Linked DNA regions of Homo sapiens: all the other regions are linked to region 4. Evidence: fine-mapped expression QTL. A gene starts in region 4. Each other region holds a variant in brackets. All regions are shown on one strand. Distances are between the middles of the regions.

Region 1 (8,089 bases), 510 kb after region 4:
CTAGGACTCAAAAAGAACAAAAACAACCCAACACTTTTCTAAGGGAGAAGAAATAAGGCTCTTACCAAAAAGCTAAACCAAGATTTTAACTAGAACAAATTTCTATGTCTTAATATTATATTTGTAGAGGGAAGCAGAGTGGGAAATCAACTTCATTCCAAACAGCACATAAGAACACTTAGAATATCTTCTCTGAGTAGCTAACAAACTCATGCAAATCTTTGTCAACAAGATTTTCTCCAAGTAGTAAACATAAAAGCTCTTCAACTTAAAAAATAAAGTACTGAAACACTTAAGGTATCCTGTAGAAATAAACATAATACTATTTGTCAAAATTAAAAATGCACATACCTCTGAAGCCTTTGCAGTTCCAGTCCCAAGATTACACTCATATACTTGCAAATGTGCAAAATAAACTCCATACAAGTATTGTCACTGCATCATTAGTTGTAACAGAAAAAGTTCAGAACAAAACTAAATGTCCATCAAAAGGCAACAGGTTAAATAAATTAGGTATACCTTTAAAACAAACATCATTTTCTGTTTTCATTCAGTCATTAAAAGTGACATAACAGTCACAAAACACCAAATATTACATGATTCAATTTATATGAAATGTCCAGAATATGCAAATCTGTAGATACAGAAAGTAGTTTAGTGTACTGGGGAGATTGGAAAGAAATAGGGAATGAATGTTAATGGGTTTAGGATTTCTTTAAGGATGATGAAAACGTTCTAAAATTTACTGTGGTGAAGATTGAACAATTCTGGGACTATACTAAAACCACTGAATTGACTGAATTGTAAACTTTAAATGGGTGAATTGTATGGTATGTGAATTGTATTTCCACAAAGCTGTTATTTAAAAAAGTGAAGCAGCTCTATATGGAATAACACAGAAACATCACCAAGGTATCTTGTTCTATGAATAAAGGAAGATACAGAAAGCTGTGAATTGCATGATACAATTTGTGTTTTCTTACACTCATGCCCAGCATGCTTTATTGGCTTATATATGAAATACAAAAGAAACTTTGTAGTTAACAGCAACTACTTTTAAGTAACTGAATGTCCAGAGGAGAAAAGACTCTTTATGCCTTTTTGTACTTTTGAATTTCGTACTATATGTATTATCTATTCAAAACACATATTTTTTAAGGTAATACAGCCATTACAGTTTCCATTTATCAAATATTATTTCTAATATTCAATATCTTCCAATCAGTATGATTTCCCATGAACAGTTTATTTTATATTTAAAGTAATACCAAAGATTAGCAGCTATTGATCTTTAAAAAGTCAACAGTATTAGGCAATGAATCGCAGCCTAATTTATTATTTTCCTTGTTCCTTGCTTTTCCTGTTATAATTTGCTTTTAAACTGTTTTCCTGCTAATTGGAAACTCCATTTGAAGGTGACCAGGAAAACTGACATAAAAGGACACATATTTGTTAACTGTGATGTTTGTTAGCTGTGTTACAAGATCTGTTGAAGAATCTGGTTGAAATTACTATCTAAAATAAAGTTGGTAAGTAATCCACAGAACTGATTTAATTCTACTATTTCAAGTTGCACTTTGCTTCTGACAAATGATGCATATTCATACCATCAAATCTGCTAAATATACATAAAGGCCACTCTATTAAATGGCCACATTTTCAGCTACAGGTTTTTATCTGTAGTATAAATTGCACTGGAAATCCATAATATATAAATATATATTATGCTCTATAAGGGTTGTATGCTCAACAAAAAAGGGGAGTGATAAATAAAACCACCACTTTCAAAAAAAAAAAAAAAAAACTGCACTGGAAAGTAAAATCTTTAAGAAAGAAAGACTACAACCACACTTCCATAACAATCTTAAAACTTCCCCTTAGTATGCAAACTGGATTCCCACTATTTAGTCTACTGCCTTGACAACTATTTACTCTAAACTAGACAAAATTAAGCATTCTTTCCTTCTTCAACATTTCTATAGCACCATATATGTACCTCTATTTTATATTCGTCATATGACACTGCAATTATTTGTTTACATGTCAGTCTTTTTCACTATACTTAGCTCCTTGTGCAGAAATATCTTATTCATTCCTGTAATTTGGGGAGCTAGCTCAGTCCCTACACGTAGGAGACATGCCAGAAAGTTTGCTGCATGAGTTATTGTTAGCTAAGTACACTTCCATTCCCCGAAACCATTCAGCTTTTGTATTATCATGAACTAAAATTAACCCTTCATTACCCACAGTATTCCAATCCTGAAAAGAGAAGGAAGCAAATACATGTAGTTCCAAACCACAAATAATTTATTCCACAGATAGTTCATCTAGGCTAACGCTAAAAATCAATCAGCTTGCATAAAGCATACACAAAGAGAAAACAGTGCTAAGATAACAACAATGCTGCTTCTGGATTGTTTTTTCTTTTTCTTTCTCTCCCTACTCCCAGCAAATAGATGTATCTGAACCACAGTCACTTATCAAATATTCATAGATTTAGAATGTCTGAATGTAGCTAGTTGCTATGAGAAAAAAAAAAAAGAAAAGAAAAGAATTGAAATAAAGACACACTATAGACCAAAAGGGTTAATAGGATATTTTGATAAATCCCTGATACCTGCTGGCTCAACTTCAGTGCCAAAGAAAACACCAACTGTAAGGTCCAAGCTGGAGCCATTAGTGACCGGAAAGGGAAAGGTAGCAAAGGTCTACTTCAGCCCTCTCTTTCTTACAAAGGACCAGCAAACCAAAATAAACTGCCTTTTCTTATATAGGTGATTAATTCTTAAGTACCTACAGTAGGCTAGGACAAAGATTCCATGGCTAACTGGCAGAGGTAGATAAAAACACTTGTGTTACTCAAAAACCAAGTAAATACCTAATCAAAATTTCTAGCACACCAGCTAATTAGTGATCATATATTTTTGAGTTTTAGCACCTTTTTATTACCCTCTTCATTAATCCAGGCAATTTTATCAACTAGTACCCTGGCGAAAGGCAAATAATGGAAAAGTAAAAATTAGGAAAATGGGAGGTTCCAGATAGTTTAGACAGACCATAGTAGTAAAAGGACAAAACTATCTAAAGTTTGTGTAATGATATAAAGAAAATCTAAAAAGAATTTTTTTTTTAATTTTTATAGAGACAGGGTCTCAACAGGGTCTCGCTCTGTCACCTAGGCTGGAGTACAATGGCATGATCATAGCTCACTGCAACCTCCAACTCCTGGACTCCAGCAATCCTCCTGCTTCAGCCTCCCAAATAGCTGGGACTATAGGTGTGCACCACCACACCCAGCTAATTTTTTTTTTTTTTTTTCGGTACAGACAGCATCTTGCTATGTTGCTCAGGCTGATCTGGAACTCCTGGCCTCACAATACTCCTGCCTCAGCCTCCCACATGAGCTACCATACCTGGTAGGACATTATTTTTAAGCTCCCATTAGGTGGAAATCAAAAGACAAAGCTTTTAGTAACAGTTCTTCCATAAACTAGCTGTGTAACCTTAGGCAAGTCACTCTGAATCCCAGGTACAGTTTTCTAATCTACAAAAATGACTGGAAAAAATTATTTCTAAGACCCTCTCCACCTTAAGTTATTCCACTAGTGCAAAATTTAAAAATAAAGACTCTTATGGTTTGGATGT[C/T]TGTCCCCTCCAAATCTCATGTTGAAATGTGATTCCCAATGTTGGAGGTGGGCCTAGCGGGAGGTGTTTGGGTCATGGAGGCGGATTCCTCATGAATAGCTTGGTGCCCTCCACATGGTAAATAATGAGTTCTCACTGTTAGTTCATGCCAGAGCTGGTTGTTTAGAGCCTGCCACCTCCTCTCTCTCTTGCTCCTGCTATCCCCATATGACTTGGCTGCTACCTCTTTACCTTCCGCCATGACTGAAAAAAAGTTTCCTGGGCCTCACCAGAAGCTGAGCAGATGTTGGTGTCATGCTTGTACAGCCTGCAGGCCCGAGAGCCAAATAAGCCTCTTTTTTTTATGAATTACCTCAGACAGTCCTTTAGAGCAATGCAAACAGGCTAACACATAGACTTTATATAGAATATGAGGTACAAAAAATTTTTTTGAGTCCCCCAGTTCATTATTTGATTCTTTTCACAATCATTTTACAAACTATTCTACCCAGATGTCAATTACTAATGTTCCAAATAATGGCTTCCCTATAAAACAATAATCATAATCAAGTTATTTTAATAAAGTTTTCACTAACCTGGTGCAACTACATTCACTCTAATTTTCTTTCTTGCTACCTCTTTAGCAAGAGCACGTGAAAATCCAACTAATCCTCCTTTACTGGCACTGTAAACGGACTGGCCAGAGTTGCCTTTTAAGCCAACAATGCTTCCTAGGACAAAAAAAAAAAAAAAAAAAAAAAAAGCGTATTAAATTCAATTAATGGGGTTACTTGAAAATTTAGATAATTTATAGTAAACAAAAAGGTAAAACCCACTTCACCTTGTCCTTTGTTAAAATTAGAAATTCTAACCATTGTCATCAGTCATTTACGGAAGATTTAAGAGTCCAAGTCTGCTCCAGATACATACAGAAAATAGCATCTGAAAGCAGCTGATACAAAACTGCCAATGCAGGTGCTTGCGAATTGATTCACTACGTGAAGGGGATGCACTCTAATCTCTGAGTAGGTCAGATATGATGAAAATTCTGTGGTATTTATAAAGGCTTCCAGCAGGTAGAGGTTAAAGCCAGAAAAAGTCAGACAAAAGCTGACTAATTTTATGATTCTACAACACAGACATAAGGCAGAAAGCTCTCGTTTTCACCCTAAAAACTAGTTCATTTGAAGCTAAATCTCACTAAAATTGAATTACATGCATAACTCATTTTATTGTTCTGCTTTATTGTGCTTTGCAGATATTGCATTTTTTTTTTTTTTTTTTAACAAATTGAAGGCTTGTAGCAACCTTGCAACAAGCAATTCTATTAGCACTTTTCCAACACCATGGCTCACTGTGAGCAGTGCTCACTCTGTGTCTCTTTGTCACATTTTGGTAATTTTCATACCATCTTAAATTTTTTCATTATTATTACATCTGTTATAATGATCTGTGATCAGTGATTCTTGATGTTTACTGCTGTTGGGGTGCCACAAACAAAATATTACTGCTCACTGACAATGCATCTGGTCACCAAAGAGCTCTGATGGATATGTACAAGGAGATTAATGTTGTTTTCGTGCCTGTTAACACAATATCCTTTCTTCAGCTCATGGATCAAGGGATAATTCTGACTTTCAAGTCTTATTTAAGAAACATTTTATAAGTCTATAGCAGTCATAAATAGTAATTCCTCTTAGGAATCTGGGCAAAGTAAATTAAAAGCCTTCTGGAAAGGATTCACCGTTCTATATGCCATTCAGAACATTTGTGATTCATGGCAGGTCAAAATACCAACATTAACAGAAGTTTGAAAGAAGTTATTTTAACCCTCATGGATGACTTTGTGGGGTTCAAGACTTCAGTGGAGCAGAATTACAAGTGGAGCCTGAAGATGTGACTGAATTGCTGCAATCTTATGATAAAACAAATGGGTGAGGAGTTGCTTCTTATGTATGGATAAACAAAGTTGTTTCTCAAGATGGAATCTCTTCCTTGTGAAGATGTGAATACTGTTGAAAGAAATGACAAAGGATTTAGAATATCCTATAAACTTAGTTGATAAAGCAATAGCAGGGATTGAGAGGAGTGGCTCCAATTTTTAAAGATCTACTTGCATAAAATGCTATCAAACAGCATCACATGCTGCAGAGAAATCTCTCACGAAATGAAGAGTCAATCAATGTGGCAAATTTTGTCTTATTCTAAGACTTGGAACCAAATCAAATGTGCAACAATGACAGACTGGATTAAGAAAATGTGGCACATATACACCATGGAATACTAAGCAGCCATAAAAAATGATGAGTTCATGTCCTTTGTAGGGACATGAATGAAATTGGAAATCATTCTCAGTAAACTATCGCAAGGACAAAAAACCAAACACCGCATGTTCTCACTCATAGGTGGGAACTGAACAATGAGAACACATGGACACAGGAAGGGGAACATCACGCTCTGGGGACTGTTGTGGGGTGGGGGAAGCGGGGAGGGATAGCATTGGGAGATATACCTAACGCTAGATGACGAGTTAGTGGGTGCAGCACACCAGCATGGCACATGTATACATATGTAACTAACCTGCACATTGTGCACGGTACCCTAAAACTTAAAGTATAACAATAATAAAATAAAAAAATAAAAAAAATAAAGAAATTGCCACAGCCACTATTATCAGTCAGCAGCCATAAACATCAAGGCAAGACCCTCCGCCAGCAAAGATTATGACTTGCCAGAAGCTCAGATGATCATTAGCATTTTTTAGCAATAAAGTATTTTTTTAGCAACAAAGTATTTACATTTTTTTTAGATATAATGCTACTGCATACTTAATAGACCATAATATAACTTTTACATGCACTGAGAAACTAAACAATTGGATAAGACAAAATTTGCCACATTGATTGACTCTTCATTTCATGAAAGATTTCTCTGCAGCATGTGATGCTCTTTGATAGCATTTTATCCAAGTAGAACTTTAAAAATTGGAGCCTCTCCTCTCAATCCCTGCTATTGCTTTATCAACTAAGTTTATAGGATATTCTAAATCCTTTGTCATTTCAACAGTATTCACATCTTCACAAGTAGATTCCATCTTGAGAAACAACTTTGTTTATCCATACATAAGAAGCAACTCCTCACCCATTTGTTTTATCATGAGATTGCAGCAATTCAATTTGTGTGACTTACATTCTTGACATATTCGCTTTATTCCGGTGGAGCAGAACCAAAGCTACAATATCTGCGAGACATGCTTGTACTGTCAATCTAAATTGGCAAAGCTTCAATTATACACTTTTTGTAAAAGTGCAATTTCATTACATTCAGTGATATATTGTAAACTGTACTGCCTACTGAAGATTCTTGAGTGACCACATCTAATGAATATGTAATAATAATTTTTAATTCAAATATCAACTATATGCAAATAAACTCTTGCAAAACAGAAGTGGGGAAGTAATTTTCTGCACCACTGACCTGTACTTATGATACAAAAATTAATCAAGGACCTCACAAAATTTTTTTAAAGTAATTTTAAAAAAAGAAAACATTCCAAACATTTCTCTATTAGAATCAACAAGTTCAGTATTAGAATATTTATCTACATTATATATTGTAGGCCAATTAATAACAAAGGAAGAGAACTGTGAAGTACACAGAGAGAACAGACATCAGACTGAAGAAATGCATATGGATAGAGGGGTGTTTATCAGAAAGAAAAATACAGAGACACAAAAAAAGAAAAATACATGCACGAAAAAAATACCAAAACAGGGCTGGTCCGATGGTAGCGGGTTATCAGAACCTATTAACAGTAGTGTCACTAAAGTTAGTATACAACCCCCAACTGCTAAATATGAGTGGCTTTTAAAAGAAAAAAAAACACAAGCTGCTTTAGCAGCTTTGATTCGTGCCACGCACTACTGTTCATCAGGTCAAAAAGTGGTAATTTCTGAAATACCAATGAAGTGTCTGGCAGTTTAAAGTAGTCCTTCCTGTAGTAAGATTCTCAATTTACTATCTATTATTTACTTTTAGCTCAATTCTAAAAGTTTTGCATGCATAAGGAGGACTAATGGGTTTTTTAAATACACCTAAAAAAAAGAAGATTTTAGAGTTAAACAAATATACCTCAGGTTATCAGGTGACAGATACAGGCCTGTTTGCCTGCTTGTAAGTATCCAAAGTCCTTATCTGGCTGTGTTAAAAGGCAAAGGTTGACTCATTGACTAATCTCTTACATAAGAAAACGGATCCCTTAAATTTTTAAGAGTAAATGTCCAAAATGCTCTCATGTCCCCTTAGTTTATTAGCATAGTATTCTTTCCTTTTCTCACTTTCAAAACAGAAAAACTCTAAATTCTGGCTTGAAAAACCATTTCCTACATTTAAAAGAACAGGGTCACTTACTTTTATGGAGCAGCATCTCCCTTCTGTGGCCTTTTAAGGTATTACCATTTGAAAA
Region 2 (8,089 bases), 180 kb after region 4:
GGAGCAGGATCGTCGGCGTGTGATTCCTTCACTCTGCGTGGGAGGCAGAATAGGAAAAGTTAAGGTTTAGGCAGGTAACTGTTAGGTGAACAGATGATAGTAACTACAAGGGCTAGAACATGTAACTCTTTCAGACTGGAGCCTACATCCAAAACTGAAAGTGACGGTTAATAAATATGGAGAAAGACGTTAACCTGAGACTCCGTAGTGTTGTTTTTTTTTTTTTCTCCTGACCAGCAGGTGCAAAGCAGATGACTGAAGTGGGAACAGAGTGGGAGAGGGCGGGAGAATCGCCCTGAGGGGAAGGCAGGGAACTGGCTGGCACAGAGAGGGAGATTTGATCTGCCCCCGTCTCCAAGAGCTGCTCTGACACCTGAGATGTAAGGTGACTTTCAGATTTCACAAGGGTTGGACAGGTGTGCAAAAGCTAGCAAATGTGTGTTTATTCAGGGGGCCCCAGCCTTTTTGGCCCCTTTTTCCTTTGAAAATCAGCTGGAAAAAAGTAGCAAGAATGGCTTTCTAAAGAGAGGTCATCAGAAGGAATTTTTTGTTTTTTAATGATTGAAACATTTTGAATCAGGTGAAAAGTAACTGTTTTCTCTCCCCAATTTTTCGCTACCTTGAGAGTGTGTGTGATAACTTCCATATGGTTTTTGCCACCCCTCCCCTTCTCCTAAATGCTTTTATGATTCCAGTAAAATGGTCTCCCGGGTCACCCCCGACCTTCTGATCGCCTTCACTGGCTTTTCCTCAGGGTTTCTCAGCTCCCTGCATCTCCTCATCACAGAGAAAACTTCTCCTGGCCCATAACTTGTTTTTGATGGTTTGTTGTTTGCCCCGTTTGTGTCCCTACTCCGCCAGTTAATCCTGCACACTGACTTTTCCAGCCCCCACTCTCGGTGCCTACACGACCAGGTTCAAACAAGTCAGCCCCAGCGTCCCAGTCCTGCCTGTGTTTCGAGATTTGCCTCCCGTTACTGCCCCCAGCCTGCTGCTCCTCTCTCCTTGCACGATCTGCGCCTCGTCCCCAGACAAGCTTTACCACTTCCCAGTTCTCTTTCTTCATTCCAGCAGAAGCCTGGAAGGTGTGTATGAGGAAGGCATGAAGCTAGGCCCTCTGAGGAACTCACACGCGCGCACCTCATGAAGGCCACCTGGAGGTCACGTGGTGTGGGGGCAAGGTCACAGACCACGAGGCTCAACAACAACAGTGCTTTGCCTGTCACCACTGCTTTCTAGTTATGTGACCTTCAATTACTTCACCTCTTGGTTCCTTGGTGTCCTTGTCTATAAATTGGACATAATTCACTTCTTAGTGAGGTTCATTATGATGATGATTAAATGAGGTAAAGTGCCCAGCAGACGCCGGGCACATAGGACATATGCAAAAATTGGTAGTTCCCTTTCTAACCCAGCGTCCATCCTCAGGGAACTCATCATTTTCTAGCAGGCATGATATTCTAGGTGACGTGAGTGCTGTAAACAAGAACGCTGGGAGTTCAGAGAAAGAGCACAGAATAGTGCCTGGGCTGACCGTGGAAGATAGCGTATCAAGAAAAGATGGATAGGAGTTTCCTAAGGAGTGAAAACTATGACTAAGGTACAGGCATGGAAAACAAGCAGGGAGAGAGAGTCCCCACTTTCTCTGTGTCCTAGGGGAGGCTTCCTTGCCACCATCCTTAAAATTGCAGCCCCCCGGGAAGTCCCATCACAGCCCGTGCCCCTCCCCTGCTTGATGACTTTCCTGCTTCACTCACCACCGTATCATGTACTTATTTCTCTTCTGTGTCCTCACAAGATCAGAGGGGTATGTGTGTGTGTGTGTGTGGTGTACGTAGTGGATGTGGGTATGGTGTGTGGGGGGGTATGGTGTGCGTGTGTGGTGTGTGTGGTGTGTCGTGTGGGTGTGGCGTGTGTGTGGTGGTGTGGTGAGGTGTGTATGTGTGGTGTGTGTATGTGCAGTGGGTGTGGCAGGGTGTGTGTGGTGTGTGTGTGGGTGTGATGTGTGTGGTGTGGGTACGGTGTGTGCGTGGTGTGGGTATGTGTAGCATGGGTATAGTGTGTGGTGTGTGTGTGTGGTGTGGGTGTGTGTAGGTGCGTGTGTGGTGGGGTGAGTATGGATGTGTTTGGGGTGTTTATGGTGGGTGTGTGTGTGTGTGTGGTGGGGTGAGTATGGATGTGGTGTGTGGGGGGTGTGTGTGCATGGTGTGTGGTGGGGTGTGTGTGTGGTGGGGTGAGTATGGATGTGTGTGGGGTGTGTGTGTGTGGTGTGTGTGGGGTGTGTGTGTGGTGTGTGGTGGGGTGTGTGTGGTGGGGTGAGTATGGATGTGTGTGGGGGGTGTGTGTGTGGTGTGCGGTGGGGGGTATATGTGTGTGGTGGGTGTGTGGTGGGGTGAGTATGGATGTGTGTGGGTGTGTGTGTGTGTGTGGTGTGCTGTGGGGTGTGTGCGTGTGGTAGGGTATGGATGTGTGGGGTGTGTGTGTGGTGGGGTGAGTATGGACGTGTGTGGGGGGGTGTGGTGTGTGGTGGGGTGTGTGTGTTTGTGTGTGGTGGGGTATGTATGGATATGGTGTGTGGGGAGTGTGTGGTGGGGTGTGTGTGTGTGTCCTCTTCACTGCGTATCCCCCTTACTTATGGAGTGCACACCATTAGATGTGCAGGTGAACTCAGCTCTCTGACTTAAGGTTACATGACTTGGAAGTCCAAGAAGTTCTGGCAGATAGAGGTAGAAAATGAAGTTGGAAATCATGAGGGCCATTAAATGACAAATTTGGGGTTTTTTATTTTACTGAGTAGAGATTCTAATCATCTCATTTTTAACAGGGAAAGTGTGCTCTAGGAAAATCTAGCCGACACAGGGAGGGCAACGATGAATTTGAGAAGGAGGAGATGGGAAGACAAGAATGGATTGTGGTAGTCCAGGCCCCAGGCAAAGAAAGCCTACACTGGATGGTAGACACAGAAATAAATAGGAAGGGACAGCAAACATTCCAGCAGAGTTACCTAAACATGACTGTTTTCAATGTCAATAAAAGACTGGAAAACATATCACAGTAGAGTCACTGGAAGGAATACCAGGCAGCTATCCAAGAGAATGCAGTGAACGTATGTATTCTAAATCTACTGATAGGCAAAAGTAGCCAAATGCCAAGTGAACATGCCATGTGAATCCATTTGTATAAATATGTACATAAATGTAAATATGTTGATATGCTGTATTAAACTTATCCAGGCCATGTGCGGTGGCTCACGCCTGTAATCCCAGCACTTTGGGAGGCCGAGGTGGGCAGATCACTTGAGGTCAGGAGTTCGAGACCAGCCTGGCCAACATGGTGAAACCCCATCTCTGC[TA/T]AAAAAAAAAAAAAATACAAAAATTAGCAGGGCGAGGTGGCACATGCCTGTAATCCCAGCCACTCAGAAGGCAGGAGAATCACTTGAACCCAGGAGGCAGAGGTTGCAGTGAGCCAAGATTGCGCCACTGCACTCCAGCCTGGGTGACAGAGCAAGATTCCGTCTCAAAAAAAAAAAAAAAAAAAAAAAAAAAAACACTTATCTGGAACAATACACATCAGACTTAATGTGGTATTTGGGAATGGCATTTAGGAAGGTACCCACTGATCTTTACTATTAGGCTGCACAATTCTGTGCTATATGGTTATTTTCCTATAAGCATGTATTATTATATAAAAGAATATAAGTGACCCAAGTTAAATGTATCTTGGAAACATTAAGAATATACTTTGAACCATTGCAATTTTTTAAGTCTGTCACCTAAAATCTCTTGACATGAAATATGTAAACATCAAAATCTGACTGCAGTTTACCTTTTGACTAAAAATCTGGTAAGTTGACCCTTTATTTAAGAACAGTAATAATGCAAGTGAATTTGGGAAGGCATGATCCAAAATCAAAGGCCCTCTTATTCAAGAACAGAACCACTGTCATACTCAGTTTTACCCAGGAGCCAGAAAGCATCAGTCCTTACCCTGCAATCTCTGGAGAAGGTTACAGTTTAAAAGCGTGGGTATTCTTCACACAAACACACACACATCTTTATTTCATAGTTTATAGCCATTTAAAAGTACGGTTGTGATGACCACAGTGATAAAAATGAAATTAATAATAAATCTGTCATTAAAAGTATATTGCTTTGAAGAAAGCTATTTATAGTAGTACTTTTTAAAAATGAGTTTCTGAAGAAACAGTACAAATAAAAAATTGTCTGAGCCTGAATCACTCTATTTTATTGTGTGTTTCGGTCAAAAAGACTTTGTATGTTATTTTATTTAAGGGAAATATAATTCTTTGCAATTATTATAGATAACACTGATATCTTAACTTTACCATTATCTTTAATACTTTCCCAGGTGCCAGTTCAACAGATTCTGACAGTGAAAGTTTAGCTTTCAAATCAAGAGCTGGAGCTATGCCACAGTAAGTGCCTACAATTCCATCGATTATGTGGAAACAAAGAATGGCAACAGAATGGTTGGGGTATGAAACCATGTTTGCTGTGCTTTGAAGAAAAAAGTCAACTGATGTTAATCAGAGATCAAATACTGAGGTTGGAACACAATTTTTTTTTTTTTTTTTTTTTTTGAGACAGGGTCTCACTCTGTCACCCAGGTTGAAGTACGGTGGTGCGACATGGCTCACTGAAGCCTTGACCTCCCAGGCTCAAGTGGTCCTCCTACTTTAGCCTCCCAAGTAGCTGGGATTATAGGCATACACCACCACACCTGGCTAATCTTTTTTTATTTTTTGGTAGAGATGGGGTCTCACTGTGTTGTCCAGGCTCATCTGGAACTCTTGGACTCAAGCGATCCTCCTGCCTCAGCTTCCCAAATTGTTGGGAGGGATTATAGGCATGAGCCAACATGTCCAGCCCGAACACAATTTTTAACTTGTAAATTTGAACTTTGAAGTCTGCATTTCATCATTGATATGCCAGAATTTTACCATATGCAATGTTAGTTTCAAAGACAGCCATCTAATTTATTATAAATGTATGGAAAGAGAAGTCACATTAAGAGAAAATCAATTAAATCATTACTAAAATGTGAGGACCAATTTATTTATGCAAGTTGGAAAATATCTAATTAGGCCAGAAGTAGGTTCTCCTTTGGATACGATCTATATTTATTTAGATCTTGTACCCGAAATTCACAAAACTTAGTTATTCCTACAAAGACATACCAATTATTAAAATGTTAATATCTTAATTATTTGGCAAAAATAAAATCTACCAGAAATTCCTATTATGGAAAAGTCCATAAATATTGAGTCTGTTCTAATAAATTTCTTTTATCTGCTAGTATGTACATAAAAATTATATCCATTCAGCATCAAATAATCAGTGATGCTTAAAGGATCTTCTAAGGTTATTTTACCACCCCTGGTTTTTATAAGGAGCTCAAGTTTAGTGAAGTTACATGGCTTGCTTCAGATTTCACAGCCAGCTACTTGACAAAGCTGGGCCTAGAAATCAACTCTTCTTAATCTTCTCTAAATATCTCACTAACTTATATGCACTAAGAAAACACAAAAATTCCAAGATACCGACAACAAAATTAGAAACCAGAAAAAAGAACAGCTGTTAGACTTAAAATAGACAACCAAAACTTTGAGTTAAATATAGGACCCTAACCCTAAACATTTCAAATCTCTGCTTATCAATAAAGATTGGATTTTTTCCAAATATTTTCTCTTAGGATTTTCAAGTTTAATACGTTAGCATCTTCAACAGCGTCTCAGTTACATCTAGCTACTTTTCTTTTACTCATGTTTTGATTTTGCTTAATGTCTATAAGGTACATTCTATAAGGTACATGTATATACTGACCACAGCTATTCTAGCTGTAGGTTATGCATTCCCATTGTGGAAGCAATTACAGTTGAAGCGGATTGCGTATACAAAAAGAAACCCAGCTTTTCTGTTGAAACGTTTCAAGGAATTATTTCTGCTAAAAAAAAAAAACAAAAAAACGAAAACAAAAAATATTCTGACTAAACACTCACCTTCCTATTTTCCAGAGCTCAAAAGAAAACAACTTCTGTTTCCTTGACAATAGGATCATCATCTCCAAAGACAGGGGTGACCACAGCTGTGATTCAACCACTGTCTGTCCCTGTGCAACAGGTAAGTATGCTTTGAGCCAGAGCCCATAAGGGGTCGAACTCATCAGCAAACTTGTGGATTTTAAGAATATGACTTTGATTCTAACTAGTATACTCCCTTGAAATATTTTCTAAGTGGACACAAAATTCAGAGCAAAGAAAATTGTAGGTAATGTTTCTCCTTTCAGTTCACTAAAAACAACCTTTAACCAAAACCACACTGCCAATTAGTCAACATTTGCATTTCCATTGGGAACTTCTTTCTCTAACAGCTAATAATCTGATAAACTGGTGTCTGTTTTAGCTGTAACTATTTGATTATTCCCTCACATGTGTATGCTCTTTCATATAGCCAAATTTATTAGCTCATTACAAATTAAAAGACAAGTCTGCATACCAACAAAAAGCTTTCCCACTCCTAAAAGCTAAACAAATAAGAAAAAACAACTCAAATTCCTTGACTTCACCATGCTTTTTGATCTTGCTTTTATTTTATTGTAAGACTGCTATAGCCATGAAAGAACAATAATATAAACTACTGGAAAGTAGTTGTAATGAATTTACTTTGCAAACACAAACAATATGAACTTCTTTTAAAAAAAAAAGTAGAAAACCATTACATCTGGATGTCTCTAAATCATGGTTTAATGAATATGTTCAAAGACAACACTCACAGAAAGGTTTTCCCCCACAGTCTGGAAATGTAAACTCATTCCTAAGTAATGAGTATGTCTTATAAGTATCACCATGTCCTCCCTCAGCCTTTATTACCTATTGAATGCTCAGGGGTGTTTCAGCCACTATAGAGGCCAATAGGTGCTATCGATATGTGGAAAATACAAACAGTAGAGAGAAGACATTTGGGTCCATAAACTTGAATCAACAAGTATCAGTTACTCAGAGATGGCATATATAGTACATATTTCCTTTAAACCCCTTAATCAGAGTGGAATTTATAGAAATATTTGATTAAATCAGTGGGCATTTTTTGGTATTTGATGTTTAAATATTGATAAATATTTATTGAGTGCTTAGTACGGTGCTAGGCATTTCATGACAGGAAAAAATGTCACCCACCCCATTCCCAAATGGGGTGAATGTGACAGAATGTATTTAGATGTAAGACAGAAGCCTAGGAAATAGAGAGATACACACACATCTAGATATGTAAATACCATAATAATGTAAAGAGTGAATTTTTAAATGGATTAAATTCTACAAAGACATGGAATGGAAGGTAATTTACCCCATGTTTATAGTTGGGAGAATGAAGCACCCAGAGAAACTCCATCGCTTTATTATTGCAGGCAATGTGACATCAAGTAATGCTCTGGAACCAGACTCCCTGGGTTTGAATCCCAGTTCTATCACTTCCTAACGGAGGGACCTTAAGCAAATAAAATGTAACCCTTCAAGCCGAGTTTCTTCATCTGTAAAATGAAGATGATAACACTATGTATCTCATAAGTTTGTCCTGAAGATCCAGTGAGTTAATCTTCATATGACACTTGGAACAGTCCCTGGCATAGAGTAAATATTAATACTATAAGAGTGTTCACATATTCTTGGGACATAAAAAGACAGTGAAAAGTGAAACCCAGACCTCTTGAATCACAGGCCAGTAAAGTCTTCCAGGGTTAATGAATAAACTCCATTAGCATCCTAGCATCTCTACCGCTCTGCCACAATTCTTCATGATGTCCTGTGGCATATTTAGACACACGATACCAGATCACCATCATCTTGGGTTAAGAAGCTAACAACCACTTACATAAGTGAATAAATCCAGATCATTTAAAAATAAGTGATAGTACACAAAGAAATATTTTCCATTCACTACTCTGAAATCCTTATATTTCTCCAGAGATGAATGTCATTGAATAGGTATTTTAGCACGTTTCTTTTTTGCACGTCAATAAAAAAAAATTCTTTTCTCTCCTTTCCCATAATCCCTATATCAAAAAAGAGTAC
Region 3 (8,089 bases), 300 kb after region 4:
TCATCCATGAGAGTTCCACCCTTGTGACCTAATCACCTCCCAAAGGTCCCACCTCCTAAAACCATCACGCCAGCAATTAGGATTTCAACATAAGAATTATAGGGACACACAAACATTCAGTCTTTAGCAAGATCTCACAATGTCTGCACTATATATAGCTTTACCACCATTTGAAAAGTACAATTCCTGTCAGTGTTTTTGGTAACCCACTGTTGTGAAATCAATTTAAAGGTTCTTGAGTGGCAATTTGAAAATGAAATCGAAGAGTAGAAAAAAGAATAGAAAAATCAAGAATGCATAATAGGTGTTGTTTGGAAAATTTGTGATTTAAGATAATTAAGTATATATATGTTGCCATTTTAAATGTATGTATTATATTGGTTGCTGTCAACAAAATATGAACGCTACAGCATCTGAGGTTTTCCAGTTGTCCACCACAATGATTAACATGTGAGAATCTTCCTGAAAAAGTTCAATGATTAACATGTGAAAATCTTCCTGAGAAAAGTTCCTATGTGGATGAGCTCTAAGGAATGAATATAGAATGTTCTATTCCCCACAGGTCTCTGCAGTGAATACAGTTAATTGGGAGCTAATCATGAACTGCTTTATATTTTTCCCTAATTGTCTTTTTTTTTTTTTTTGAGACAGGGCCTTGCTTTATCACCCAGGCTGGGGTGCAGTTGTGTGATTATAGCTCACTGCCACCTCACATTTCTGTGCTCAACAGAATTCTCCCCCCTCAAACTCCCCCGTAGCTGTGACCACAGGCAAGCACCACCACATCTGGCTATTTTTTGTACTTATTTTTTTTTATGTTTAATGTTTGTGGGTACATAGTAGGTGTATATATTTATAGGGTATATGAGATGTTTTGATACAGGCATGCAATGTGAAATAATCACAATGTGAAATCATGGAGAATGGGGTACCCGTCCCCTGAATCATTTATCCTTTGTGTTACAAACAATCCAATTACATGCTTTTAGTTATTTTTAAATGTACAATTAAGTTCCTATTGACTATAGTCACCCTTTTGTGCAGTCAAATACTGGGTCTTATTCATTCTTCTATTTTTTTGTACCCATCAACCACCCTCACCTCCCACCTTGCCCCCCACTGTCCTTCCCAGCTCTAACTAATTTTTTTAGTATTTATGGAGACAGGGTCTGCCATCTTGCCCAGGCTGGCCTAATTGTTTCTTGAGAATAATTGTTGTATCCCCCAAACATAAGGAGGAGAGAAGTCGTTTTACATTTCTGATGATGCTTTCTCAGAGCCCAGTGCAAAGGAGAACACCAGTCACTGCTGGCGGGTGTCTGACATTCAGTTTGGCTGTTTCACTTGTCCTGTGATAGCTAACTGATCTTGCTGTCTCATCATGCATTATTTGCACGATTGGCAGTTATTAAGGTACACCAGGCTAGAAGGGAGTCCATCTGGCTCTCCGCTGGGCCCTGTACTCTTGGCCCAGGATCTGAACCATAGCCTATGCTTAATAAATATTTGTGGAATGAGTAAGAGGTTCCATCTATGAGATGAAAACCACTGGTGGCTGATAAGTATTCAAATGGCATATCTTCTGTAAATGTTACAGAACGTCAATGCCATTAGGTGCTTGAAGAGAAGTTTAAAAATATTCATATGCAGGAAATGAGATCATAGAATTTCTCATAAAAATGCAGTTTGATCAAATTGAGGGGATGGATACCCACTTACCTTTTCATAGTAATAGTAAATTTGTTATAGAAAACACATTTTACCTTCCTTGTCTCCTAATTCGAGGTCATGTGAAGCTTAGCTAGAAGGAGCAAAGTACATTTTGTTCTGCCTGAACTGTCTCTAGTGAATACAGTTACCCTGGGCTTTATTATGAATACCTGGCCTGTTCCACAAAAGCAATGAATAGTGCTTCAAGGAAGAAATTTTACTTGTTTTATTTCCCAAGAAACTCACCAAATTGAGTTGTCTCTACTTTCCTTTCAAAACTATAACTAAGTACAGTAGTAATGTCAGGTCACTTATGATTTTGACCTGTGCCAATCTTTGAATATTTGAACATTTTTATCTCCTGAAAAATTACTTGGCTTGAGGGAGACACAGTTGGATGAGCAAAGAAAAAAAGAAACAATCAAATGATTTTCTGATGCTTTCGAATGTTCATAGGCTTGCTTTGAAATCCCTCTGTCTATATCACCCCATCCTGTTTTTGACTTCTAATCTCCTTTACCAAATACTATGTAGCAATATTTTGTGAGTCATCCAAAAGTTGAGTATATTTAGACCACCGTGACAATCAAACAGTATAAACAGAACTACTCATCTGTCTGTTCATCATCATCCCACGCAGGGAGTTAATTCCTAATAAAGGAGTTTATCAGATCACCCTCAATTACATCACTTTGGGATAATTTCATACCCAAGGAAATTTGAGGCATTTTTGCCTTGGAAAAGAGCAGGTGCCTTACGAAAAAGAAACTAGATTTGTGAGAACTGGGCTTATGTTTCAAATTTATATTCTCAACTTTACTCTGAAGAGATGGCTTGGAAGAAGTGACGGTAACACAGAATTGCCAGTTTGCTTGGCAAGGTCAAACTATTCCATATGTTACCTTGCAAGAAAAATATGTTAATTTAAAAAATATCAGAGACCAAATGAGAAGTTGAACACACAGCTGATTTAGCTCAGATTTTTGTTTGTTGTTATACCGATTGCCATATTAGCTCCCTCTTCTACCACCTCAACCCCACCCCCACCACCATACAGCTGCTCGCTTGCTCGTTACAAAGCATATTTCCCCCTGTATATTAATGTCATATTCAGCAAATCAGGAAATTTTGCAACTTCCCTTCTGATCCTAATCTGGCTATTTTTCTTGAGTTCAGTGTCATCAAATCAGAACCAGACACTTTTGTTAAGGGTATCACATTCAAAATTGCACACAAACAAGCCCCACCTTATTTTTATGAAAAGTCTGCCCAGTTACCCGCTTTGTCCCGACACTAATAGAGCCAAGGCTCAGGGTTTGCAATGTAAGGAAATGTGGAGTACATTCCAGCATGCTTTCTATGATGAGTAGATGTTTGATAGTACACCTCACTTATCTGTGCCTCCCCAGTTGGGGAGCCTTTTTCTTATCTAAAAGGCCTTGCCATATCAAAGGTAAGGATACTGTTTGGTAAATTCCTCTAAATAAGAATGCCACTAGGAGAAATTTAAATTATATGTAAAGGAATAAAAGTTGAAAAATAAAGGGTTTTTTGTTTGTTTGTTTTGAAAAGTTGGTTTCAAACTTAAAAATTTGCAAGTGTCATTTTCTGAATTGTGGAAATAGAGTAAAATTTATCATTTCTTATAAAGTTTTAACATTAGAAAAAAAGCTTCTTATGACTAAAACTAAGGCATTTGGTAAAATTTTCTTACCGCTTCTACTATAATATCTATTTCTCTTTAGATAGATAAAGATACAGATTTGCAGTAACATTGGAAAGTAAGTGAAAAACACAGAGGAAATTAAAACTTTACTATAACCTACCTGTGTAGAAATAATCACTGTTAATTTTAATGCATAAATATAAATTTTTAAAAAGTGGAACCGTATTGTAAACTGATTTTTATCCTACTAAAACAAACATTAAGTATCTGCTGAAATGTTTTAAATTTTTTCAAAATATATGTATTTTCTGACTCATTTGCTATAATACTTAACTCATTGCTGCCCATGTAAACTTGAACTGTCTCATTTGTTAAAGCGTGAGAGAATTCATAGTTAATTCTTTGTACAGCTAAATTGTTCAGTAGGAAATGCAGAAAGAAGTGTTAAAAGAAAATCTTCAGCCAAATTTAATTTAATTTAAAAGAGTTTAATTGAGCAATGAACGAATCATGAATCGGGCAGCCCGCAGAATCACAGCAGATTCAGAGAGACTCCGGGGGTGCCTTGTGGTCAGAACAAATTTATAGACAAAAAATAATAATAATAAAGTGACGTACAGGAATCAGAAGTGAAGTACAGAAACAGCTGGATTGGTTACAGGTCAGTGTTTGCCTTATTTGTACACAGTTTGAATACT[T/C]GGCAGTGTGTGAGTGGTTGAGGTATGGCTGCTGGGATTGGCCAAGACTCAACCACTGTTACAGATGCAAACTTTTAGGCTGTCAATCTTGTTTACCTATTAAGTTAGGTTGCAATTCATCCACAAGGACTCAAATACAGAAGTATAGAGTCCTTCTCAGGCCATATTTAGTTTGTTTTAACAGACGTAGAAGAGAAAACCCTTGTTCTTTGCTTTGTCCAGGGTAGTCAGCTGATTGGAAAGGTAACCGAAGTCTCTCAACATCAAAACATTTCTAATGCAAATTCTTTAAGTCGTACTGTTCCTACTCACCTTGAACTTATGAGCAAATCCCTTATCAATTGTGCTACCTTTTATTCAGATAATGAATTTGGGAATAGGGTTTGGAATTCAAGTCCCATAGCTTAGAAAAGATTGAGTACCTGGCAATTCAGTATAGTTGTGGATTGCAATAATTCCTGTGCTTGTTAAGTAACCAAGATTTTTGTGTGTGTGCGAAAAGCATGTGTAAAATAATTGACAATCAGCACTTCTGTTGGATAGATGGGTTCCTGAAAGAGCATATGTGAATAAATTTTGGTGTATCTGATGCTACTTTCCTGTTAAGCTACTATGGAAATTATCTTAAACATTATATTCTTTTCCCTGAGGCAGAAAATGTAAATAATACATTCCCACAGGTAACAACTATAACTATTTCCTATGTATGTTTTCAAAAATGGTTCATGCACTTACGAGCATTTGTGTACTGTATGTATTCATGCACTTATATAGGGTACCCTAAGAGATGATTTTTACATGAGGGCCTATCACACTTACATATTCTTACTTCTTAAGGGAATTCAAAGGTAGATACTTTGTTGTCCCTAAAAAAGGTACATGAAGATCTATTTCCCTCTTATCAGAGGCAGGCTTCATATCTGTAGTAAAGGAGAAAAATATAGAACATTTGCTTTAAAAGTTCCTCTTTTTATAAATAATACTTGCTAACTTTTATGCTTCTGTTTTATAAGGAATTTCTTCCTTGTGCTATATACAAAAGTTGCTTCCAGGTGGATTAAACAAGGCATAAAAAGATAATAAAGGAAAAATTTGATAAGTAGTTCAAATAAAAAAATTCTGATCATTAAAAGGCACCCTAAGGAGTATTAAAAGACAAGTCATAGGGTGGAAAGTATTTGCAACTTATGTAGACAACACTGGACCAGAATATGTGGGTTACAAATGGAATAAATAAAGAACTCGTACAAATCAATTTTTAAAAGCTACCAGGCAATAAAAAATAAATAAGTGAAAAGTAGAACAGCCACTTCACCAAAGAGAGAATTCAAATGGCTAATAAACATGAAAAGATGTTCAATCTCATTAAGTAATAAGAAAAATATGAATTAAAACAACAGAGATACCATTACACACCCATTTAATTGGCAAAAATTTAAGCCTGATAATACCAAGTTCTGGCAAGGATGTGAAGTAACAGGATATTTCATATACTGCCAGTGGGAGTATAAATTGTTAAAAACCACGTTGGAAAAGAGTTTGGCATAATTTGATAAACTCAAAGTTATGCAAACTCTATGACCTAGCAAACTTCACTCTTGAGTATATTTCTCAAAGAAATGCTTACATACGTGCACCCAGAGACACGTAACCCAAATGTACATAGCAGCCCTGCTCATAATAACCCCAAACTGGAAATATTCCAGAAGTCCATCAACAGTAGAACAAGTAAGGAAATTGTGGTAGAGTAATTCAATTAAATATTATTCAGCAATTAAAATAAATGAACTATAGCTAGACGAAACAACATGATAAATCTTACACACATAATATAGAACAAAAGCATACAGACAAAAAGAATACAGTCAGATTCCACTGATATAAAGCTGAAAAAGGAGGGAGAAACCAAGTACCTTGCTCAGAGATGCATAACTGAATAGTAAAGTTAGAAAGAAAATCAAGGAAATGATAACTCTGCAAGTCAGGATTGCGGTTACCCTGGGAAAACCCAGGGGTATGAGGGGGAGGCACACACAGGAATCTTCTGTTCTATTTTTTTACCTGAGCAGTGGTTACAATCTGGGTGTTTGCTCTATAACTCTTTGTTAAAGTGTAAAATTTTTTTGTTTGTTTGTTTGTCTGAGATGGAGTCTCACTCTCTTGCCCAGGCTGGAGTGCAGTGGCACGATCTTGGCTCACTGCAACCTCTGCCTCCCGGGTTCAAGCGATTTTCCTGCCTCAGCCTCCTGAGTAGCTGGGATTATAGGCGCATGCCACCACACCCAGCTAATTTTTTGTATTTTTAGTAGAGACAGGGTTTCACCACGTTAGCCAGGATGGGCTCGATCTCCTGACCTCGTGATCTGCCCGCCTCGGCCTCCCAAAGTGCTGGGATCACAAGCGTGAGCCACCACGCCCAGCCTGTAAATATTTTTTTAAAAGACGTGCAGATAGAAATTATCTTAAATAATTGCTTACAAGACAAAGAGAACGACCTGCCCCCAAGTCCCCCAGATAAAGTAGGATATCACTAAGAATCCACACCCAAGTAAAGTAATTAAAGGGGTTAAGATGTCTCTCCTTTTGTGATTAACACCCCGTCGTGCTTGCAGAGGCACCGCTGGGTGTCAGGGAACCTGCCTGCTGCTCACCTGAACACCCCATAAATAACACCAGCTCTAGGACATGGTCCATGTGAACAAATGAAGAATCTCTCCTTCAGCCAGAGGGTGAGAGTGGCATAGGTAACAACTAGATAATGCTTGGCTCTGCCTTTTTCTTATTGATTTGTAAGAGTTCTAATTGCAAGATAGGCTGAGAAAAGTAGTCTAGCCATGTTCCATGAAGAAGAGAACATGGAATTAGGTTAGTAGCTAGCAGCCTCAGCCACAATAACTTTATTTTGTTTGTGCACTCATCATTTAAGAAGTATGTGAGAGCCTACAAAATTGGGGAGTTACTTCTCGGGAATGCTCCATTGAGAAAAACTGCTGCCTCTTTTATCTGTGTAGTCAATATCATGGCCTAAATTCTAGAATCTTCTCACATAGCCAGAGTTTAGTGATCAAGCACCACAAACCAAGAGATATTACATAACAATAGGATCGCTCAAACAAATCTACGTGAACTAGGAAACTGCTTTTTGGCTCACTCAGAGGTACAAACTTTACACCCACTGAAAATTGTCCCAGGATTGGATAAAGAAAATGTGGTACCTATACACCATGGAATACTATGCAGCCATAAAAAAGAAATCACATCCTTTACAGCAACATGGATGGAACTGGAGGTCATAATCCTAAGTGAATTAACACAAGAATGGAAAATCAAATGTTGCATGTTCTCACTTTCAAGTGGAAGCTAAACATTGAGCACACATGGACATAAACATGGGAAAAATAGACACTGCAGACGACTAGAGTTGGTGCGGGGAGGACATGGGTTGAAAAAATATTTTTCAAATGTAACTACTGTTTGATAAAAAGGAACTATGCTAAATGACCACTTCTCCCAGCTAAAGGCAGACCATCTACATTACATTTTTTTTTTTTTAAGACGGAGTTTCACTCTTGTTGCCCAGGCTGGAGTGCAATGGCACCATGTCGGCTCACCGCAATCTCTGCCTCCTGGGTTCAAGCGATTCTCCTGCCTCAGCCTCCTGAGTAGCTGAGATTACAGGCATGTGCCACCATACCCGGCTAATTTTATAGTAGAGTAGTAGAGACGGGGTTTCTCCATGTTGCTGAGGCTGGTCTCGAACCCCCGACCTCAGGTGATTCACCCACCTTGGCCTCCCAAAGTGCTGGGATTACAGGTGTAAGCCACTGTGCCCGGGCTACATTACATTTTTACTCAGTTAAGAGCAAACAATAATAGGTGAATAGCAGCCTGATTCTGTATGTTAAAAATGATTGGTGATTGAATCTCAAATGTATTAGTCCGTTCTCACACTGCTATAAAGAACTACCTGAGACTGGGTAATTTATGAAGAAGAGAGGTTTAATTGACTCACAGT
Region 4 (8,089 bases):
CCAGGATCCCCAGATGGACCATTGGGACAATTCTGCAAGTGTTTCATGCCTCCAATTTTAGTGTGTTCCTTGATCAGCCTTCTCAATTACCATTTTCTCACATGCTCCGTGATCCTTGTTTCCTGGTGGTTGACGCTGGGAATGAAGAGAGGAATAAAAGTGAAAAGGGAGTAAGTAGACTTGTTTCTTGAAACTTAGGATTTTCAAACTTCCTGGATCGTAAGAAAAAGAAAACGTCCAAGGGGGATGAATGAGCAAGTCTGCTGCATTCCTTTGCACACCCCTTTCATCAAGGAAACTTTGAATACCTTTACTTTTTCTATTGGCTGCCCAAGAGTTTGTATCTCCTAAAACAAAGTTTGTAAACCAGTATCCTCGATTGACCTGAACCTGGGAGGCAGACTGATAGATAATCTCAAAACAGAGTGATCTACAGCCTGGAAATTCTGGTGAAGAAGAAAAATCAGTGTATGAGAGAGCTAGAGGAAGAAAGTTTACAGTCAAATAACATGTTTGAACGTGCAGTTGTGAAAACAGAGCATGCCCCAATGTGGCTATAGGACTGATGGGTTAAAGGGAATAGAGGTGTGGTAGCCAACTGCCAAGATGACCACCAATGCATTGTCTTGCCAACTGGTTTTTACGCCTCTATGCAGTCTCCTCCCACAGTGGATACTGCCAATTTGTATAACTAAAGGATACTGCGGGAAAGACGAAATATGACCTCCAAGGCTGGATCATAAAAGATATAATGGGGCCGGGCGCGGTGGCTCACACCTGTAATCCCAAAACTATGGGAGGCTGAGGTGGGTGGATCACCTGAGGTCAGGAGTTTGTGACCAGCCTGGCCAACATGGTGAAACCCCATCTCTACTAAAAATACAAAAAAATATCTGGGCGTGGTGGTGGGCACCTGTAATCCCAGCTACTTGGGAGGCTGAGGCAGGAGAATCACTTGAACCCAGGAGGTGGAGGTTGCAGTGAGCTGAGGTCATGCCACTGCACTCCAGCAACAAGAGCAAAACTCCACTTTAAAAAAAAAGACATTGTGGCACAATCCAGCTGCCATGAAGCTAGGAAACTCAGGCAGTGACACAGAGAAGTCAACAGGGTTCCAGCCAATAACAGGACTAACTTTCCAGGCACGTGAGTGAGCTGCCTTGGAAGCAGATTTTCCAGCCCCAGCCATGCTTCCACCTGAAAGAAGCTGGGGCAACATCTTCAGTACTATCTCATGATACCCTGATCTGGAATTACCCAGCTAAGACTAATGGATTCCTGACACATAGAAACTGTGTGAAATAACAAATATATATTGTTTTAAGACATTAATTTTTGCAGTAATTTGTTATGAAGCAGTAGATAAGTTATATCTGATTTTGGAGGTGGAGGAGGTCTGTTTGTGTGATCTGTAAGAGGAACAGAGATGAAGATTCATAGAGAAAAGCAGGTCCAAAACCAATATGCCAACATATAGAATAGACAAATGGGTGCTGAGTCACCCAGAATAATGGCAGGGTGTGGAGTGAAGAAGAGAACCAAGAGCCCAACTAGATCCAAAGTCTTAATTTTAAAAAGTGGGATGGAGGATGGTTGATGCAAATATAAGTGCTTCAAAAGAGCAGGAATTTCTATAAGAAGAAGTAATCATTTGAAAGCTGAACTGGAGCCCCATGAAGGAGCCACAGACTCCCTTTCCCAACCTTCGTGCACACAGAAATGGGCTCTGGTGGAAAATATGAAAGTGCATGAGAAATGATATTACTGTCCACACACTAATCTCATCCTTAATATCAACTGGACCTTGCTATACTAACTTAAGAGTGTTGATCAAACTTTCTAAATTTTTTTGATGCCAATTTTCTAAGGAAAAGAACTTCTTATAAGATTTTTAAAACAAGCTTGGTTTGCTGCACTATTTGCAATACACACACAAAAAGGTCACATTTCTGTGTCCTTTTGAGTAAAGTCATATCCATCTTTGAAGCCTCTCTCAGGACCACAAGCTGTTTTTTTTTCTTTTTTCTTCTTATGGCTTCATCACTTCACTGGTGTTATACCAGGATTTAGGAACCAAGCAATCCAAAGAAATGTGGGAGAGGCCTCGTCTGGCCAGTAGTCCAACATGATTGCCTCTGGAATTCACCATGAGACTCACAGTTCACCAGAAGGCAGAGGCAAAAATCAGAGTTGCCAATTAAAATTATTTCTAAAGATGGGTTCACTGCTTCCTATTCCCAAGCCTTTCTGAGACTCCATGGGGTGAATCACTTGCTTCTTTTCTGTATCTCCTCCTGCAGGCATTTAAGCTTTGTAATTTAGTTACATGCATACTTATATTTATCTCTTTCCAACAATTTTGTTCATTTCTGATATCTTCTATTGTCTTCCCTCCCAATTTCTGCCCTTTTCAGTTTTTACTATTATCTTGTGGTTTTAGGAAAAAGCAGATATAAATATGTGTTTAAGCAATGCTATGGTTTGAAGGTTTTTGTCCCCTTCAAAATTTTTGTTGATTCCTAATCCCCTATGCAACAGTATCAGGAGGTGTAACGTTTAGAAGGTGATTCAGGAGGACTCCTCATGAATGGGATTTGATGCCCTTAGGGCTTGATGGAGGAAGTTTGACCCCCTCTTGCCCTTCCACCTTCTGCCATGTGAGGACACAGTGCTCAAGGCATCACTGTGGAAGCAGAGACAGGAACTTCACCAGACAACAAACCTGCTGGCACCTTGATCTTAGACTTCCCAGCCTCCAGAACTATGAGAAATCAATTTCTGTTCTTTGTAAATTACCCAGTCTGTGGCATTTTGTTATAATGACACAAACTAAGACAATCAATCAGAGTTATATTTCCTTGTAAGTATAAATTTTATTTTTTTATTTTTATTTTTATTTTTTTTAAGAAGGAGTCTCGCTCTGTCACCCAGGCTGGAGTGCAGTGATGGGATCTCGGCTCACTGCAAGCTCCGCCTCCCGGGTTCACACCATTCTCCTGCCTCAGCCTCCCAAGTGGCTGGGACTACAGGCACCCGCCACCACGCCCAGCTAATTTTTTGTATTTTTAGTAGAGAGGGGGTTTCACTGTGTTAGCCAGGATGGTCTCAATCTCCTGACCTCATGATCCACCCACCTCGGCCTCCCAAAGTACTGCAATTACAGGCATAAGCCACCACGCCCAGCCGTAAGTATAAATTTTAAAATCACTTCTTAATTAATATAATAGATGAAATGACCCACAGAAGTATCCACTCACAGAAAGGACCATTTCTAAAGGACCAGTTTGGCCTATAAAGAAAATACAATAGCAGACCTTCACAAATTTTCTAACATCAGAAAAGAAAAAATATTTAGATATTAAACTGAATCAAATGTGATGGTCTTACCCAGACAAAGGAAGACTCAGCACCCCATTTCCAAGTTAACTGGGAGCTTTTGTGTTGCTCTTTTTGCCCCCCTTATATTTGATTCTGCTACCTGACCTTTAAACAGAAAAGCTTTCTCTTCTTGCTATCTATGTTTGTTATTTAAAAGATCAAAATATTAAACTCTTGCTATATCTATTTGTCATTTGAAAGATCAAAATATTAAATGATTGTGAAACATTTTTTGCAACTGTAAGAGGGTTGATACTTTTCCTGAATATTATTCATTCAACATTCATTTATTTCTTTGACAAATATTTAAGAGATGCTCATGATGTCCTAGGCATTGAGCTAAGAACTCAATGTTGCAATGTGGATAAGATCCAGTCCCTGTGTGTTCATACTTATTTAATACTATTATAGACAAGGCCTTTAATACATACCATAGTCATATATCAATTTTTAATTAGCAATATGAAATAAGAGAACAATGGGACTTTCCACTCAATTTGACAGGTGGCTAAATTTTCAGTTACTGAATTTACTATTTTAGGGTAATCTAGCACATGACCAAAATTTAAATGCACAGAACAGAAGATCAGAGTAAGAAGAGCTTCCATTTGGATTATCACTTTTTCTACTTGGAGTCACATACTGTACTTTAAATTGATTAAGAACATGTTAAAGGTCCAGGTGGTGATTTCCAGCTACAAGTCCAAAGTATAGAAGAATGTGTTTAAATCCTACGTTTATCAGATCCATAAATATAGTTCCTTCTATGTTAAGTGGCTTTATTTCTAAGAACCCAGCCCTCGGTCCTGGGGGTGCTTCCCAGCCCGCTGCTGGAATTCCTGATCGTGGCAGTCTGCTGAAACATGAGCTCAGTTACCAAATATAGCTGAGTGGAGTAAGAGGACAGATGAGAGTCTGAGGCCACAGTTGCCTCAAAGTGACCACGGACCAGGCAGTCTCTAATGAATAGGCAAGGCCACAACCTCCATTCTCCCAGAAAAGAAGAAATGCTCATCTGAAATTCATCACCTCTCTGGAGTCTTCAAACTGACCAAGCATTGAAAAGGTCTGTAAGGTGTATCTTAATATACTAACTAGTAGGGCAACATTTTAAGGACTTAAAAAAAAAAAAACTAAAAATACAAAAGTTTTTCTGAAGATATGATACTATTTACAAGATACCTTAATTATTCTTTTGCTTGGAGAGGAAACGTAATGAGAATGTTACGGTTTTGCCAAAAACAGATAATACGTAAGATTTGCCTGCCCACTTCATCTCTGCCTTTGCTGTCAGAGAATTACACTTTCTGTTATAAGCTTAAGCATGCTAAGATGGTGCTATCAATTCCAAAAGGATTAAATGTATTTATGGAGCCAGCTTTTGTCAAGATCGTGTATGTGTTATGTTTCACAGAAAAGGAAAACGCAGCTTTCTAGACCCTCACCCATATTTAAGCTAGATAAGTGATGATGGCTTAAAGTGATAGACCTTAGATTTCAGTAACATTATAAATTGTTAATTACACTTTCAAAAGATTCTAAAAGTAACTCACTGGACATAATTAAATGAGTTGGGATAGTAACAGCAGGTATTTTAAATTATATTCATGCATAAAATTTACATACATATTTTTAATAAGATAACGCTTACTAAGGGAAACCACAGTGCAATCTCGAGTCCAGTCAAGTTTAAACATCACAGAATAATTTTTATCATGTTGTTTTAAGTTGCACATGAAATTGTCTTGAATCCAATATAGGAGGTTGACATAAAATGATTTCAGGCTCATATTACTTATTAACATTTGCTAAAAATACTAATTGCCTTCTAGTATGAATAATGTGGTGACATATAAAGCCATTTCTTGGCAATATAAAACTATTACAAATCTATTCAATCACATATATGCAGAAATTAAATCCTCATTTCATGATAAATGTGCCTTCCAATGTTTTTTCTCACAGAAAGAACTTGAATACTCACCTCAATTATTCAGATTTTTTTTTCAGATTTTTAAAATCAAAGTCTCTTTGACAAGTTATTGCTAACAGCAGAAAAGGCCGATGAGGTTTATCTGGCCACTAACTGCCCTGTAAATACATGATTACACATTCCTAGAATATAAATTAGTCCTCTGGCATCCTAGAATCTGGTATGGATTAGGGTCTGTATCCCAGGGGTTCTGTGTCAGCTCTTCCTCTGGGTTTCTCTGTTATTGCTAGAGCTGAATATTAAAACTGGCCTTATAGCATATTTCACAATAGAATGAGGATCTGGATTGCACTGGACAAGTACAATCACTTTGACCTCCTTACCTCATTTTTTAAAAATGTAGAGGGCAATCATTATTCAGGTTTAAAAATAAATATGACAAGTTCTTTAAGAGATACCAAGTGGAATCTGCAAGGCCCAGACAAGAGCTCCACTTCTTAAACAATATGTGTGTGGAGGCTGTCAAAGGGTATTGCAATTACTGAGCTCCAGTTAGAAATTCAGGCCATCTAGAGTTAATGACTGTGTCCCGGTGAAATTACAGCAAAGAAAACAAAGATTGAACAAAGTATCTTCGACTAAAATTTCTAACTGTTAAATCATATTAGAGAATATAGAAGCAAATTTGGTAAATAGGTTTTGAATTTAAGTGAGAAGAATAAAGCCCTGAATTGGATAATGGTAATGGAAATGGATAATTCAGAAGTAAAATCTAAATATTTGCAATGGACTCAGTATGGTGAATAAAGTTGATAAGATGAACAGGACATGGGATAACTTCAAAAACTCTGTAAAGTATCTTATTTGGCTGTTTCTGCATTAAATGAGCTATTAGATTATGTCCTTGAAATTGAGATTAAATAAGCTGTTTAAAGAGATATTTAAAACTGTAGGATAAATATATCTGCCTGCATTGACAATTTAATAATTAGAAAGGAAAATAATCCATGTGTATTTATTAAGAAATAAATTATAAAATTGTAGTGCATTTTCTGCATCAAACATAAAATTTCATAAAATTTTCGTGTTTGACTTTTGCCCTAAAGGACCCTTTGTAGCAAAAAAAAAAAAAAAAAAAAAAAAAAGGAAGGAAGAAAGAAAGGGAGACGGGGAAGAAGGAAGGGAGAAGGGAGGGAGGAAGGGAGGGAGGATGGGAGGGAGGATGGGAGGGAGGATGGGAGGGAGGAAGGGAGGGAGACATGGAAGAAGGGGGAAGGGAGGCAGAAGGGAGGGAGGGGGGAGGGAGGAAGGGAGGGACTTTATTGATTTAGTCTAGGGGGGTTGCCTGTGATTCTGAAGCATGAAAATTAAGTGTTAAAGCTTTTCTAACTTTGGTTTTCATAGTTTAGGTTTTATTAAAAGATATTTCAATATCTAATATTTGTATCAATGGTTTGCATTACTTTTTTAGTAATTGCTTAAATATGAAAATAAAACTGCTAAACCTAAAATTAAAAATCACTTATAACTTTTTTTCAAAAATTACAAAATAAGCAACAAAAGATCCCCCTGCATGTCCCACCTTTCAACTCCTACCCCTGCCTAAATCCCCCCACAGAGGTCAGTGTTGATTGTTTGGTGTATGTTATTCCAACCATTTTCATATATTTATTCCTATCTATGTATACATTTTTAAATGACTATGGGAATTTAGCTATTCCACCTGGACTCTCTAAAGAATCTGCTGAATGTGGTACATGGTATTAAGTGATCCTTACTGCCTGTCAATGTTTTTCTAACATCAAACTTTTTCTTTCAAAATTGTAGCAGTTCTTCATCGACTCAAAGTATTTCACAAACAGACTTCAAAAGTTTTCCCCTTATCTAAATTTTTAAAGTAATTTCCTATAATATCTCCAATGAGAGAAGAAAACTTTGCAGTTAAATGCAGGCTTCCACCCTGAGTCTGCCACTTTCTGATGGCTCAGGTTGGGCCAAATAATTGAAACTTTTTCTGCTGCAGTTGTGGGTAATACAAACAATAAAATAGAAAAATAACATCTACTACATGGATTGTTCTGAGGATCAAACTGTTCACTTTTGAAAGCAGGTAACTTCCAAGCTGTTATGTAGGAACAACTTGCATTGTCACTGAATTCTTTCTACTTACTAGACTCTGCTCTTTCTCATGTATATTCCTTGTCTTCCCCAAGTTCCTCCACGTCAAAGAAATCTGTTGTAATTTCAACAGTCAATAGTGCCTTGATTCATGGGGATCATGCCAGGGGGTGGTCCCATAAGTCTTGTTTGTTTGTTTTTTGAGTCAGGGTCTCACTCTTTTGCCCAAGCTGGAATGCAGTGACCTGATCATCGCTCACTGCAGCCTAGAACTCTTGGACTCAGACAATCCTCCCACCTCAGCCTCTGGAGTAGCTGGGGCTACAGGCACACACCATCACACTCAGCTAAGTTTTTGGGTTTTTTTTTGTATTTTTGTAGAGATGAAATCTAACTATGTTGCCCAGGCTGGTATTGAACTCCTGGGCTCAAGCGATCTTCCTGCCTCAGCCTCCAACAGTGCTGGGAGTACAGATGTGAGCCACCATGCCCAGCCCCCTATAAATATTTCTTAACTGACAACATAGAGGATTCTCCCAAATATCATAGAGCTGGCTTTCAGGTAATCTATCCCCAAAAGTCAGCAACTTTAAAGGCAAATGGTAGTCATAATTTTTAAATTTGTCTATTTTTTCTATCATTTGTATATTCATATATGAA

Direction of the effects. Positions count from the first base shown, and alleles are read on the strand shown. Sizes are in standard deviations (SD) of each study's normalised expression. Not every link is listed here.
In carriers of allele T in region 2, the expression in lymphoblastoid cells of the gene that starts at base 4,302 in region 4 tends to be higher than with TA alone (large effect, 2.4 SD a copy in TwinsUK).
In carriers of allele C in region 3, the expression in macrophages of the gene that starts at base 4,302 in region 4 tends to be higher than with T alone (moderate effect, 0.55 SD a copy in Nedelec 2016).

What was found. PIP is the estimated chance that this variant, and not a neighbour inherited with it, causes the effect. A credible set is the group of variants that fine-mapping cannot tell apart.
Region 1: its variant is the best candidate, but not a certain one, in a credible set for the expression of PALLD in testis (GTEx, PIP 0.54).
Region 2: its variant is the best candidate, but not a certain one, in a credible set for the expression of PALLD in lymphoblastoid cells (TwinsUK, PIP 0.86).
Region 3: its variant is the best candidate, but not a certain one, in a credible set for the expression of PALLD in macrophages (Nedelec 2016, PIP 0.74).

The regions. Positions count from the first base shown.
Region 1 is chr4:168,997,851-169,005,939 of GRCh38, forward strand. It overlaps CBR4 (carbonyl reductase 4), which reads right to left. Exons shown (of 5, transcript NM_032783.5): 4 at 4,221-4,355. It also overlaps the pseudogene RNY4P17. Among named protein-coding and RNA genes, the nearest start is that of CBR4, 8.4 kb to the right of the region's middle. The variant C/T (reference allele first, on the strand shown) is at 3,646.
Region 2 is chr4:168,676,964-168,685,052 of GRCh38, forward strand. PALLD (palladin, cytoskeletal associated protein) reads left to right here. Exons shown (of 22, transcript NM_001166108.2): 4 at 4,369-4,435; 5 at 6,035-6,140. It overlaps LOC124900808 (a long non-coding RNA gene), which reads right to left and starts at 9. Exons shown (of 3, transcript XR_007058360.1): 1 at 1-9. The variant TA/T (reference allele first, on the strand shown) is at 3,352.
Region 3 is chr4:168,795,082-168,803,170 of GRCh38, forward strand. The region is part of intron 10 of PALLD (palladin, cytoskeletal associated protein); the gene reads left to right. Among named protein-coding and RNA genes, the nearest start is that of PALLD-AS1, 150 kb to the left of the region's middle. The variant T/C (reference allele first, on the strand shown) is at 4,075.
Region 4 is chr4:168,492,751-168,500,839 of GRCh38, forward strand. It overlaps PALLD (palladin, cytoskeletal associated protein), which reads left to right and starts at 4,302. Exons shown (of 22, transcript NM_001166108.2): 1 at 4,302-4,444. It overlaps LOC107986198 (a long non-coding RNA gene), which reads right to left. Exons shown (of 4, transcript XR_001741448.3): 2 at 1-135.